Homo sapiens: one gene and its partners. The protein of the gene in region 1 interacts with the protein of each later gene in a pairwise test. Each region holds a gene or a part of one and is shown on either strand. Other genes may lie near its edges.

Region 1 (2,441 bases):
TATTTGGAATTTATGTTTGTTTAGGATTCAGTTTCCACAAGTCTCTGGAAAAGCTAAACTAAACTAATAGAAAGGAGATGCAGGGATAGCATGATAAATTTCATTATCCAGTGCTTGTTTTGGGTTCTTAATATGGTTTTCCTTACTTTTTTCTCTCAGGTATATTCAGAGGTGGCTATGATTTATTGGTGAGGTCCAGGCTGGCCTTAGCCGATGGAGTGACCATGCAGGTGACTGTCAGAAGTAAAGAGAGAACACCTGTAGATGTTATCTTAGCTTCTGTTGGATAAATGCTTACTGGACAAGAGGAAACTGATGCACACTACATGGTCAGTGGGCTTTTAGGCTAGTGGCATCAGTTTCCCAGAATCAGACTTTTGAAGATGAATGACTTTGGAGAAGCAAATTAAACATTTGGCCCTGAGCCAGCAGATCAAGCAAATGTCTATCTTTGCGCATGGGTTGTTTTTTTTTTTTTTTCTTTTTATTCTACTTGGTCAGCTTTGGGACGATAGTGCAGCTTTGGGTGATCTTGAAAATCAAATACTATCCTATACTCCAGCTGCTTAACTTCATTTTATTCTTTAATGTGTACCTGAAAGCTCCTGGCAATGCTGGAAAATTTTTATCCCAGAGGGGTGGGGGGGAGGGGGGAGGGGAAGCCAGAGTCCACTTTTGTCACAATTCATTTTTATTAATAGAAAATAAACACTTATTCCAGTTTCAAAGTTGTTATACTTGAAGTTGCTAATTTAAAAAAACGAATTTTAAATAATCACTTAATAATCCTGCTTTGACTAAGACAATGAAATGTGGCTTTAAAAAAAAAGTATTCAGCACCATTTGCTCATAGGTCTTTCAGAGTTTGTTCTTAAAGTTTCTGGAACTTTCCTGTCTGTAAAGTAACAGGAATTACTGAGCTACATTGGAAAGCCTCTCTGGGACAGGCAGTGGGGAGTTAAGCAGTCATCATAAAGGAATCAGTGTACATTCAGCATGGTGACTTGACTACACAACAATCCCTTCCCCTCTACTGTAGCTCAAGAGAGACATGCTTCTAACCACTGAGGTATGAGGAGTCTCAGACTGTTATTTGCTGTTAGAATTGGTCTTCCCAGCTAATAACAGTACATCTCTGGCACAGATGCTATTGGTCCTTAATGTCCTGTGATTTTAGGAAATAGTTTGGATTTAGTTCAATTTATTCAGAAACCAAATGTGTTTAATTAGCTTCACTACTCTGGCAGAGTAAGGGTATGCTGGTTTAGTATCTTTATAAAATATATATAATGTATAGGTAAATCATAGTCTTAAATCATACCTAAAATACTGTATCATTTAAACCAATATCTATTTTAACAAAATGTTTATAACTAAAAACAGCTGATGAAACACTAAATCCAAAGGTATGACAAAGAGGACTCAGCTCTGTGTTGCTTAAAGAACTTTTAAAAGGCATGTGCCCATAACGTCATTCGAGGAGAGGGAAGGAGCCCCCCTTCTCCTCCTCCTTACTATAGAATTCCTGTTGGGGGTGGGCCAGAAATTAGCACTTCTAAATATTTCAGAGAAGTCCAAAGTGTTAAAAAAAAGTCTTTTATGCAAAAGAACGTCTTTCTGCATCAGTGAATAGTAATGCTCATCAGAATTTCCTAATAGCACAAAAAACAAAGCCAAGTCTATACATTTGATCAGATATCAAAGTAATGGGAGGTGGACTATTATGTCAACCTTAGTCAGAGCTCCTGCTGGCTTCTTCCTATACACTGTTCACCAATTTGAGTAAAGTGGACTTTGTGAGAGAATTATGTTTGATGGCCAGGACCTCTTTTGGGCATTTCTTCCTAAGTGGAATACACAACACATAAGGGAGTAGGGGAGGTAATACAGGGAAGCTACTCTTTCCAGCTCAGAAGGAGTTGATGAAGCCCATATATGCATTCAAGAAGCCCATGGGATCCTCTAGCTGTGGATAGTGGCTAATGTGGTCATCCAGAATCGACACTGTGGACCGCGGCAGCGTTTTCCTAGTGGAAGAGAACAGCACGCAGGTGAACTTGAGGCTGGAGCGGGAGGGATGTAAGCCAGTGGGAAGCCCCAGTAAATGACCCTGTGGACACACCACACTGGAAGGAGCCACCAAAGAGCTTATTCACCTTCTACTCTGAAATTGTATCTTAGGCAGATAAACTTGCCAATTCCATTTATACAAACTAGTTTTTAAATGTTCATAATCCAACAAACAACAACTTGAAAATATAACACTTTTGCAACAATTGTCAAAGCAAGATGACTTTCAGCTCCTTAGAGAAGGATGAAGCATCAAACAAGTGGATCACACAGCAACTCACTGCCCAAGCAGAGATAACCAAGGATCTTCCCTTAATCCCAGGAGGAGATGAGAGAGGGGGTATTTTATTTAAAATTATATGCAAGCTGTT
Region 2 (3,202 bases), on another chromosome or scaffold:
GAAAGTGGGTTTCCTGGGCAGGCGCCATGGTTCATGCCTGTAATCCAGCACTTTGGGAGGCTGAGGCGGGGGGATCACGAGGTCAGGAGATCGAGACCATCCTGGCTAACACGGTGAAACCCCATCTCTACTAAAAATACAAAAAATTAGTCGGGCGTGGTGGCGGGCGCCTGTAGTCCCAGCTACTCGGGGGGCTGAGGCAGCAGAATGGCGTGAACCCGGGAGGCGGAGCTTGCAGTGAGAGGAGATCGCGCCACCGCACTCCAGCCTGGGCGACAGAGCGAGACTCCGCCTCAAAAAAAAAAAAAAAAGGAAAAGAAAGTGGGCTTCCTGGGCGCATGCTGGCCTTCCGGCCCCACCTGGAGGTCTCTTCTCTGCATTTTCTACCAGTTGAGGGCCCAACTTGGAGACGTGAAATTCTTCCCTCTCGAAGCCTTTCCTGATCTTTGCTCCTTTCTGTAACGTGACGTTTGTCATCGTTGTGCTTTCTTTATGTGAATGAATCTGAATGAATGAATTTCATAATCCGCTGCGCGTCTGCTGAGCAAAGTAATTATTAAAACGGAGTCTTTTCATTTTAGATGTGGACGAGTGCTCACTAGCAGAAAAAACCTGTGTGAGGAAAAACGAAAACTGCTACAATACTCCAGGGAGCTACGTCTGTGTGTGTCCTGACGGCTTCGAAGAAACGGAAGATGCCTGTGTGCCGCCGGCAGAGGCTGGTGAGTGGCACGGCTGCCCTCCACACAGGCTGCCCTCCCCTGGGCCGCAGGGCTTGCACGTAGACTGGCTGCTTGGTCTGAAATCCACACAGATGGTGGCCTTGAGATGGTGAGAGGGGGATTCCCGGAAGACAGGTGCATGACATCTCTGTGTGGGCACGCTTGCGCGAGAGGTACTGGCTTCCTGAGGATGAAGCCCCAGGTTCACAGCTCAAACGGAAGTTCAGGCGATGAAGGGGGAAGTCTCTGAAGCTCAGACCTCAGCGGGCGATGAGCAGAGGAGCAGACGCAGGAGAAGAGGCAGCTAAAGAGCTGGAAAAGTCATCCGGGGAAGCTGCCCAGGGTGCCGCAGAGACAGGGACAGGCAGGAAGTGGTGGAGGGCAAGCGGGTCCCCCACACCTGTTTCCTGGGGCTACCTTACCAAGAACCAGGAACTTAGGGCTCCAGCAACAGAAATGTGCCGCTCACAGGAGCCAGAAGTCAGAGGCCCAGACGCAAGCAGGCTGCTTCCTTGGGAGGCTGGGTGGGCGCGTCTGTTCCGGGCCTCTGTCCTCGCCTGGGGATGCCACCTGCTCCCCGTGTCTTCACGTGGTCTCCATGCGGGTGTCTGTCTCTGTCCAAACCTCCCCTCTTTGTAAGGACACCAGTCACTAATGCCCTCATGTTAACCTGGCCAGTGGTAAAGACCCTATTTCCAAACAAGGTCACAATCACAGGTACTGGGAGTAAAGACTTCAGCGTGTTTTGGGGGACATAAATCTGCCCGTGACAGTCCTCACAGAAGTCTAGAATATAGAGAGTGGGAAAGAAGCAGTGTTCAAGGAGATATTGGCTAAGGGTTTTTCAGAATGAATAAGGCACGATTCAGATTCCAGAAGCTGTTTCCTGAGCAGGACAAATAAAAGCAATTCCACATCTAGAAGCATCGTAGTAAACAGCAACAGCAAGACAGAACTGAGGGGTTAGCAGAGACGGACAGGCCAGAAGACAAGGCTGCCTGCTACCCCCTCGGTCCCCTCTGCCCTGGGCTGGCCCTGCCTCTTGCCCCTCCCTCCCCCCACCCTCGGTCCCCTCTTGCCCCTCCCTCCCACCACCCTGGGTCCCCTCTTGCCCCTCCCTCCCCCCACCCCGGGTCCCCTCTTGCCCCTCCCTCCCCCCCTCTTGCCCCTCCCTCCCCCCACCCCGGGTCCCCTCTTGCCCCTCCCTCCCCCCACCCCGGGTCCCCTCTTGCCCCTCCCTCCCCCCACCCCGGGTCCCCTCTTGCCCCTCCCTCCCCCCCGTCCCCTCATTCTCCTCCCTCCCCCCCACCCTCGGTCCCCTCTTGCCCCTCCCTCCCCGTACCACCCTCAGTCCCCTCTTTCTCCTACCTCCCCCACCCTCGGTCCCCTCTTTCTCCTCCCGCCACAACCATTGTTCAGGCTCCCATTCTGCCAGGCCGCAAGGAACCCCTTGCCGCTCCCAACTCTGCATCCTCCACACCCACGGCAGCGTGGGGGCTCTGAAATGCCGTCTGCCTCATCTCTCATCTGCTTTGTGGGAAACGGGGGTCTCCGAGCTGCCCTTGGATGGCTGCGTCCGGGGCTTTGAGCCAGGACTGGACGGGCAGGCCCTGCACATGCGCTGCTGTCCTGGGAAAGGCCTCATCCCCAGGGCCCTTTGTGCTCAGCCTTGACGACCTATGCTTGTTTTCTGACAGAAGCCACAGAAGGAGAAAGCCCGACACAGCTGCCCTCCCGCGAAGACCTGTAATGTGCCGGACTTACCCTTTAAATTATTCAGAAGGATGTCCCGTGGAAAATGTGGCCCTGAGGATGCCGTCTCCTGCAGTGGACAGCGGCGGGGAGAGGCTGCCTGCTCTCTAACGGTTGATTCTCATTTGTCCCTTAAACAGCTGCATTTCTTGGTTGTTCTTAAACAGACTTGTATATTTTGATACAGTTCTTTGTAATAAAATTGACCATTGTAGGTAATCAGGAGGAGAACGGGCGTGGGTTTGTCTCATTAATCAGGACGGACCTTTACCACTGAGTTTGCACCTGTCCTGCCAGAGCCGGGAGTGACCAGGGCTGCCGAGGTCCGCAGAGGCAGCAGGTCCGGTCCTGGGCTGGTGGCTCTGCTGTCCCTGAACAGGGCTCACGTGCCGCTTGGGGGAGGAGGGGAGGGCCCTGCCTTGGGCGAGAACCTGAAGACGTGACCAGGTGGGTTTCAGGGGTCCAACCTATGGGCCCTCTTCAGTGATTCAAAGGATGTACAAGCAGGGACCCTCAGGCAGGGGAAAAGCATCTTTGGGGGCTTCGCTGGAGGAAACAGCCACTCACAAACCGCAGGGCCTGCCCGTTCCTCATCTGGGAATGAAGACACTGCAAGAAGAAAGCTGGCTGCGGGTGAGAGGCTGCAGGCTCTGGGAGCTCCGTTCCGGGGGGCCATGGCCTCCTCCCTGGGCTCCTCATAGCCCCCAAGTCCCACTTGGCCTGGTCCC
Region 3 (4,158 bases), on another chromosome or scaffold:
TTTCCTGATGAGGATGTCCACGATCTGGAACCTAGAAAGGACAGCCCCATCAGCACCCAGATGAGTGGGAGAGACACCCAGGGCCACATGGCAGTGCGCTCCGGCAGCGTCGGAAACCAACATGCAAGACGCAGCTTGAAGGACTGTCCTTGCTGCATTCATCCAGCTCACCCCAGCAAGGACGGGCGGCAAGAGGAGGAATATTCACCAAGCCGCCTCCACAGTGCCGGTGGGCGTGGTGCCCAAGGGCAGCTACCCCTTCTCAGCTCCAGCCTCACACTGACCTCAGCAGTGTAGACTGCTGTCTATTAGTGTATGAAGAAACCAAGTGTAGTGGCTTGAATAGTGTCCTCTAAGAATCCGTGTCCTCCCTGGACCTCAGAATGGGACCTTATTGGGGAAAAGGGTCTTTATACAGGTAAGTTAAAGATCTTGAGATTAAATCATCGTGAATTTAGAGTGAGCCTAAAATCTAACAATGACTTATGTCCTTATAAGAATAGGAGAGGACACAGAGACACAGAGAAGGAAGCAGAGACTGGAGGGATGCCCACACCAAGGACACCAGGAGCCCCCAAGGAGTTGGAAGAGGTAAGGGAGGGTCCTCTTAGTCTAGAGCTTTCAAAAGGAGTGTGACCCTGCTGACACCTAGATTTTGGACTGCAGGCCTCCAGGACTGTGAGAGAGCCAATTCTGGTTGTTTTCAGCCCCCCAGAGAGTGGAAACTTGTTACAGCAGCCACGGGAGACTAACACACCATGGCTGGGGATGAGACAATGCCCCGTGACCACATAGCTCAAAAGCTTTGGGAAAGTCAGGGAGGGCCCTGGTGGGGCCTCATCCACAGCACAGGAACTGGCCGGACTTCTGCTGGGGTCTCACACTCCTTCCTCCACGCCCTGTCTGTGTTTGGGTCTTGAAGGGAAAGAACCTCAGGCCAGGAATCAGAGTGCCTGGGTGCCAGACCCAGCGACACCCCTCCCCAATCAGGCAGCCTTCAGGACGCAGCTGCTCTGCCCCTGCACAGAATGGTCATGAGGTTCACGCAGATAATGATGGAGAAGGAGCTGCCAGCTCAGGAAAGTCCTGGATAAACACAGGGTGGCGCTGGTCATTAATCCCCCCCGCCGTGCGCACCAGACAGAAGCCAGTGCCAGCAGAGAATGCCAACATGTGGGGCTCTACTGACATGCCCAAGGTGTTCAAGGCACACGGGAAGTGGATGGGAAACTGAACCATGCTAACAATTCTTTGTGCTTCTATGGCATGAAAACCATAGATGATGGCGTCTCATGCCTATTATCCTTAGAGCCTCCCAGTGACCCTGCGAGACAGGTGGAAATGGCAGGCATGTGGTCTGCATTTTACAGATGACACATCTGGTTCCCAGAGGCCAGGGACTGGCCCCTGGCCTGTCGCTGACTCATACTCCTCCAACTCCAAGCCCGGAGACCCAGGTCCCCCACAAATAGTAATTACACACACACACTCAACCACGCACGCACACACACACGGGTAGCAGGTACAGGAAGGAGAAAGGACCGGGAGCTCAGACCCACAGAGATGAGAAGCTGTGGTTCCAGGTGGAGAAGCACGGGGAAGGAGAACAGGTTTCCCTGTGTGCTCTGAGCGCTGCTCAGAAAGAAAACCTCACTGATAGGACCTCCACCCAGACCTCTTCCATCTCCTGTGGCCACTGGCTAGAGAATTCACCAGCAAAGCAAAACTGTTATGCTGTAAATTCCAGACAGAGGGTACTACCCAGCATGCCACCTTCTCTTTGATCTCCCCACCCCAGTGAGTCTAACTCTTCCAGGGGTCCAGACTCTGTGCCTTGAAAATCTCCTCCGCACCAGCCTCTTCTACCGCACACCTCCCTCAGCCAGCCCCATCTGTACCTCCGGGGGTGTCTCCTTGTCCTGGGTGTCCTGGATGCCTCCGCCGTCTGCAGACATTTTCTATTTCAGAGCTAGAAAGAACAGCTGAGTTGTTTCTCCCTCTTTTTGGCCAAGCCCCCTCCAGCTTCTGGCCAGGAGCCTAGAAGAGCAGACAGAAACCAGCCCTCGCTTCCTGGACACCCCCAAAGAGCCCTGAAAATCCCCACGAGTACCAGCGCTCCCTGGTCCCAATCGGAAAGAAAGTCTCCCAGATCCTATCCGATGGTCCCACTCTCTGTGATGTTTTCTGGGTCCTATTTTTGAAAGAATGCTATTTTGTATTGTCCCCTTTATTGCTGAAGCAAGAGCCTCGCATCTCAGTGTAACCGGCTCAGGGAAAGCCGAGGCTAAATTGGAATCGCTATTTCCTGTCATCAGGAGCAGAAAGTTCTGCAGAGATCCTGCAGAACAGGTGCTGGTGGGGCCCCGCCCGTCAAGGCCAGGGTAATCCAGGACCTGCTGTCCCCCGACCCCAGGACATACACCGTGTGTCCCTACCTGACTCCCATGCCCACCAGGAATTCAGAAATCAACCTGCCCGCTCTCAGCAGCCCCCCTGCAGCTGCAACCACCTGCCCCAGGCCTGGGATGCCCATCCTGCTCTCGGTCCTGGCAGACAATGTCCTTCTCCTTCCCAAACCCGGTCCTGGCCCCCTTCTCTCCTGCCAGCTTGAAGCCTTCCACCTTTGACCCCATCCCCTCCTGCAAGCTGATCATCTGCGCCGGTCTCGGGATCCAGATGCCCTCCCCAGCACCCCCTTCTCACCGGGGTGGAGGCAGAGGGGGCACCTGCGGCAGTGGGGGCCCCCTCCCCCGGGAAGGGAGTCTCCACAGCCTGCACGGGGCGGGCGGGGGAGTTGGGTGGAGACTGGGAGTAGGGAAGACAGGAAGTCCCTCCCAGATCCCATTCCCCATGCAGCCGCAGCCCTACAGCGTTCCCGGTTTTGAGGGTTCCGGGTGTGGAGTCTCGAGCCTGGGTTGCACCTGCTCTTGGCCGGGAGGTGACTCCCAGAGCCGCAATGCCAGCTCATGAGGATGGCTTTACCCAGGACGCGTTCATGATGCCAGCAAGGCAGAGCCACCAAAACAGAAAAATGGAAGATGCATTTTGTGGAAAGATTGTGTTATTTGAAATTTCAAAGCGAGCACTGCAGTTGTCCTCACAGGTAGAAAGAAGGGCATTTTGCAGGGTGGAGAGGGCAGGACCATTTATTTTAGCACTCGGGGTTTCTGAAGGTTATTGTCTCCTGAGGGACCCTGAATTCATTTAGGGACTCCTAGTCAAGGGCCCTCTGGGTCCCCCCAAGACTGGCACAGAACTCTCTCCCTAAGAGTGAACTTGGGAAACAGGCTGGGAACTCCCCCCAATCCGGATGCCCCACACCTTGGGAAGAAGTTGGTTAATCCGATTCTTCCAGGCCCATTTCAGCTTGGGGATAGAGGGTGTGATCCAGCTATAAATGGGGTTCTAAGTTCTCAAACACGCCTGGCAGCTGCAGATTCTGCCTCTCAGGCACCATTTCCCTTTAGACCCTGAGAAGTAAGGCCTCAAATAGAGAGGACAGAGACTGTGCTTTACTTTCTGGGGGAAGGAACCATTTCTCTTGGGCAGGCATGGGGGCTGGGTGTCAGGAAAAGGGCCAGGGGCCCAGTCCTGGAATCAGATTCCAGGAAGTTTCCCTAGGAAACGTCCCCATGCCACTGTCTTTGGCTCACCAGAATCCCCTGAGGTGCACAGCTTCACACAGTAAGATGGGCCCAGCTGCCTCTGTACCAGCTCGTGCTATGTTGTGTGGGCTTTTAAGGGTTTGTTTGTTTATTTATTTACTTATTTGAGACAGGGTCTTGCTCTGTTACCCAGGCTGAAGTGCAGTGGCACGATCATAGCTCACTGTACCCTCAACCTCCTGGACTCAAGCAATTCACCTCAACCTCCCAAGTAGCTGGGGCCACAGGCGCATGCCACCATGCCTGGCTAATTTTTTAAATTTTTTTGTAGAGATGGGGGTCTTGCTTTGTTACCCAGGATGGTCTTGAACTCCTGATCTCAAGCAATCCTCCCACCTCCCAAAGTGCTGGGATTACAGGTGTGAGCCATCATGCCCAGAGGGTTTAATTTTTTTTTTTTTTTTTTTGAAATGAAGTCTCACTCTGTGGCCCAGACTGGAGTGCAATGGCGTGGTCTTGGCTCACTGCAACCTCCACCTCCCTGGTTCAAGTG
Region 4 (3,500 bases), on another chromosome or scaffold:
TTGGTAGGGCTAAAAGCACCCAATATCAACATTTTCCATAAGCTATGGTAATGAAGACACTGTGCTATTGGCATCAAAAACACACAAAAGTGATGGATAGAACAAAATAGAAACCCAAAAATAGGCATGACACATTGGACAAATGGTTCTGACAAAGATATAAATCAATTCAGTAGATAAAAGATAGTGTTTTCAAAAGTAGTACTTAAATAATTAGCTATTTATATGCAAAAAGAATGAAGAACTTTGATCCATTCCTCACCCCATATACAAAAATTAACTCAAAATATATTATAGCCTTAACTAAACTCTGAGACTATACAACTTCTAGAAGAAAACATATTAGAAAATAATTGTAACCTTTAGTTAGGAAAGGATTTCTTAGACACAATACCAAAACCATGATCCAAAAAACACTAAGTTGGAATTCATAAAAATGTAAAATTCTGCTCTTAAAAAGATACTTTAGGAGAACAAAAATTTCTGCAAATCATGTATCTGATAAATGCTTATATCCAAAACATATAAAGAATGGATACAAAACTATCCAATTTAATAATAAGGCAAAAGTTATGAAGGCACACTTCAATAAACATAAAGAGATGGCAGATAAGCACATCAGGAGATGCTCAACATTAATCAGTCACTAGGGAAATTCAAATCAAAACCACATACATTCATGGTGAGAATATAAAAACAACTATTATAGAAAAACATTTGGCAGTTTCTTACAAAGTTAAACATACACCTATCCTATGACTCAGCCATTCCATCATTAGGTATTTAACTAAGAGAAAAGAAAGCGTATGTCCATACAAAGACTTGTAGAAAAATGTTCACAGCAGCATTAAAATTGCCAAAAACTGGAAATATTCTAATGATCATCAACAGGTGAATATAAGGAAATACTATTCAATAACAAAAAGGAATAAACTATTGATAAATGCAATAATATGGATGAATCTTTAATTATGCTGAGTAAAAGACAAAAATGCATACATACTATATGATTTCATTTATATAAAACTCTAGAAAATGCAAACTAAGCTAAAGTGACAGAAAGCAGATCAGTGATGACTTGGGAATGAGGAAGAAGGCAGAAGGAAGAAGGAAAGGGAGAGATTGTAAAGATGCATGAGGAAATTTTGGGAGTGATGGATATGTACCTTATCTTGATTATGGTCATTATTTCATGGGTATTTACATATGTTAAAATTTATCAAATTATATACTTTAAAACTATACAGTTTATTGTCTATCAGTTATACCTCAATAAAGCTGTTAAGAGAGTATACAATATTTGCATAAATATTTGGTTAGAAACAGAGCTTAAAGTTTTGCATGTTAAAAAAGTCAAATTAGTTCTTTGAAACTTTTACATGAAAACAATTGCTTTCTTGAGATCTGATGCATTTTGGATTATATGCTAACACAGATAATACCTATTATTTTCTAGCATATTTTAAAATGAACCTTTGAAAATCTGACATTTTCTCCAACAGGTTGAACTAAATTACTTGGCTTCAAATATTTAAAAAACTCAGTGTAGTTAAAATTGCTACTAATCTTCACAGGATGAAAATATTTTGGGAGTTAACAAGTATTTCCATGTACAAAGTTAGTCAAACACCAATAAACTACATGAATCATCAAATAGTCAAGTATAAATCCGGACTTAAATTCACACTTAAAAGCCCCATGTCATTATCACTAACCACCATAAGATTTTACATCTTATCAGTAACCAAGAAACCATACTATTGAAGTTTTAAATATCTTAATAAAGCTAGAGACAAGGAATTCTTTTCTATTAAACAAGAGAAATATTTTAAAATGTTTATATCAATTTCCTAGGAAAGCAACAAAATAATTCACTTTATAAAACAAGTAAGTTAGGGCTGAAGAGACAAAGATTGATATTATTGAAAAGGTCACACACTGGATTAAAAAATCCTTTCTTAGGAAATAAATAATAAGTATACAAACATTTAGGAACTAAATGGGGAAAAATAGTAGAGTGAAATTTAAAACATTACCCATGCTAAAGACAGACGAACTTGTAGCATATTAACATTTATAGAACTTTCAGCTATTCTCACATTAGCTTTACAGGTATGATAAAAAGTGAACAAAACAAATGTATTTGGAGTAAGTACTTTGTTGCTTTCCTCATTGCTTAGGAATTCATACCTCGTAATAGCTGTTCCTGTTTTACCACAAGCCCCTGGTACTTTTTAAAGGTTTTTTCATAATCCTTTCTCAAGGTTTGGTTTTCAGGGTCTTCATCAAGTAAACAACTTGTTAAGGATCATCCATACTCATTGAAGCAAAAAAAATCTACTGATAAATTCTATGAACAATGGCACTATTAAATTTTATGTGCAACTTTATCCAGTTATTTTTCTCACCAAAAGTTTAACTAAAATGTTATCTGCATAATAACTGTGCTGTAACAGCACTTCTTATTTAAGTGCTCATGGATTCCCTGGGAGTCTTTGGGTGAACAAACTTTTTTATGTAGCCCACAGCTAACATCATATAGATATTTGAACCTCACCAAATACTTGAATTCCCAGAAACTATATGTGAATATTTTATATAGGTGCACAAGTCTATAACTTTCAACAGATTATCAAGTGGGTCCACGAACCAAAAAAATTACTGCCTCAGAAAGTGATTTAGTTACTAAGAACACTGGATTTTACTTCAGACAGATGCCCAGAATATTCAAAGGATATAGATTAAATCTAAAGCTTTTGTAGCAGCCTTTTCAGACTAGAGATGCCAAGAAAGAACTAACCCAAACTTAAAGGTAAACAAATTTTAAAAATCACATCTTCTGGTCCCAAATCGTCCTCTGGACTTCTTGCAAAAATAATCAGTTACTTCAGTATCCCCAAGCATATGAGTCAAGCATATGACCCCAGAATATGAGTCAATGCAGCTGACCTTGTTGAATACCACTTGTATCAAAATACAAAGAAATTTAGGACATAATAAAATAGCAACATGTCAGGAGAAATGACCAGAATTCTGATGTCATTTTTATATCCCTTCAATTACCATAATCTGTTGAGTCTAAGATACATTTTCCTCACATCTTAACATCTCCAAAACTGGATGTGTCTTATAATCCCTGATGTGTCATAGTTTAATTGAAAGCATATGTTCCTCTCCTCGCACTTAAACAATAGTGAATCTTAAAATTAATGGTGTCTGATACAGAAATACAATATGTCCTAAGATATCAGTTCTTGTCACCAAACAATAACAAAATGCAAATTCATGATTGCTAAAGAGTTCCACTAGTGGTTCCCTCCATACTTCTCCAGTTTAAATAAATTTTGGGTACCACTGAAGCATTCAGGAGTCTTGTGACTCCAGAACTGATGTAAAGTCTCTAGGATTCTTGGGTTGTTGATGTAGTTGAGTCACTATCAATCTAGATGCCAGAAGTTTATGGTATGCATAGAAAATTTATAAACCTGAAAAGATTCTAA

What was found. The genes of interacting proteins can lie anywhere in the genome.
Region 2: the proteins of MEST (region 1) and CRELD2 interact in a two-hybrid assay, tested with the Homo sapiens proteins (one large-scale study listed by BioGRID and IntAct).
Region 3: the proteins of MEST (region 1) and ZNF205 interact in a two-hybrid assay, tested with the Homo sapiens proteins (one large-scale study listed by BioGRID and IntAct).
Region 4: the proteins of MEST (region 1) and KIFAP3 interact in a two-hybrid assay, tested with the Homo sapiens proteins (one large-scale study listed by BioGRID and IntAct).

What each region holds. Positions count from the first base shown.
Region 1 is NC_000007.14:130,504,525-130,506,965, reverse strand, and holds the end of MEST (mesoderm-specific transcript homolog protein), read right to left. Parts: intron 2,028-2,441; coding exon 1,910-2,027; 3' UTR 501-1,909; downstream 1-500. Other genes in the region: COPG2 (coatomer subunit gamma-2), read left to right, coding at 160-290.
Region 2 is NC_000022.11:49,924,836-49,928,037, forward strand, and holds the end of CRELD2 (protein disulfide isomerase CRELD2 isoform b precursor), read left to right. Parts: intron 1-581; coding exon 582-722; coding exon of another isoform or gene 723-835; exon of another isoform or gene 836-1,733; intron 1,734-2,419; coding exon 2,420-2,472; 3' UTR 2,473-2,702; downstream 2,703-3,202. UniProt on the Homo sapiens protein: Protein disulfide isomerase. Might play a role in the unfolded protein response. May regulate transport of alpha4-beta2 neuronal acetylcholine receptor.
Region 3 is NC_000016.10:3,111,228-3,115,385, reverse strand, and holds the start of ZNF205 (transcriptional repressor RHIT), read right to left. Parts: upstream 2,801-4,158; 5' UTR 2,704-2,800; exon of another isoform or gene 2,436-2,703; intron 2,038-2,435; exon of another isoform or gene 1,970-2,037; 5' UTR 1,956-1,969; coding exon 1,899-1,955; intron 592-1,898; exon of another isoform or gene 499-591; intron 419-498; exon of another isoform or gene 32-418; coding exon 1-31.
Region 4 is NC_000001.11:170,029,696-170,033,195, forward strand, and holds part of KIFAP3 (kinesin-associated protein 3), read right to left. Parts: intron 2,290-3,500; coding exon 2,191-2,289; intron 1-2,190. UniProt on the Homo sapiens protein: Involved in tethering the chromosomes to the spindle pole and in chromosome movement. Binds to the tail domain of the KIF3A/KIF3B heterodimer to form a heterotrimeric KIF3 complex and may regulate the membrane binding of this complex.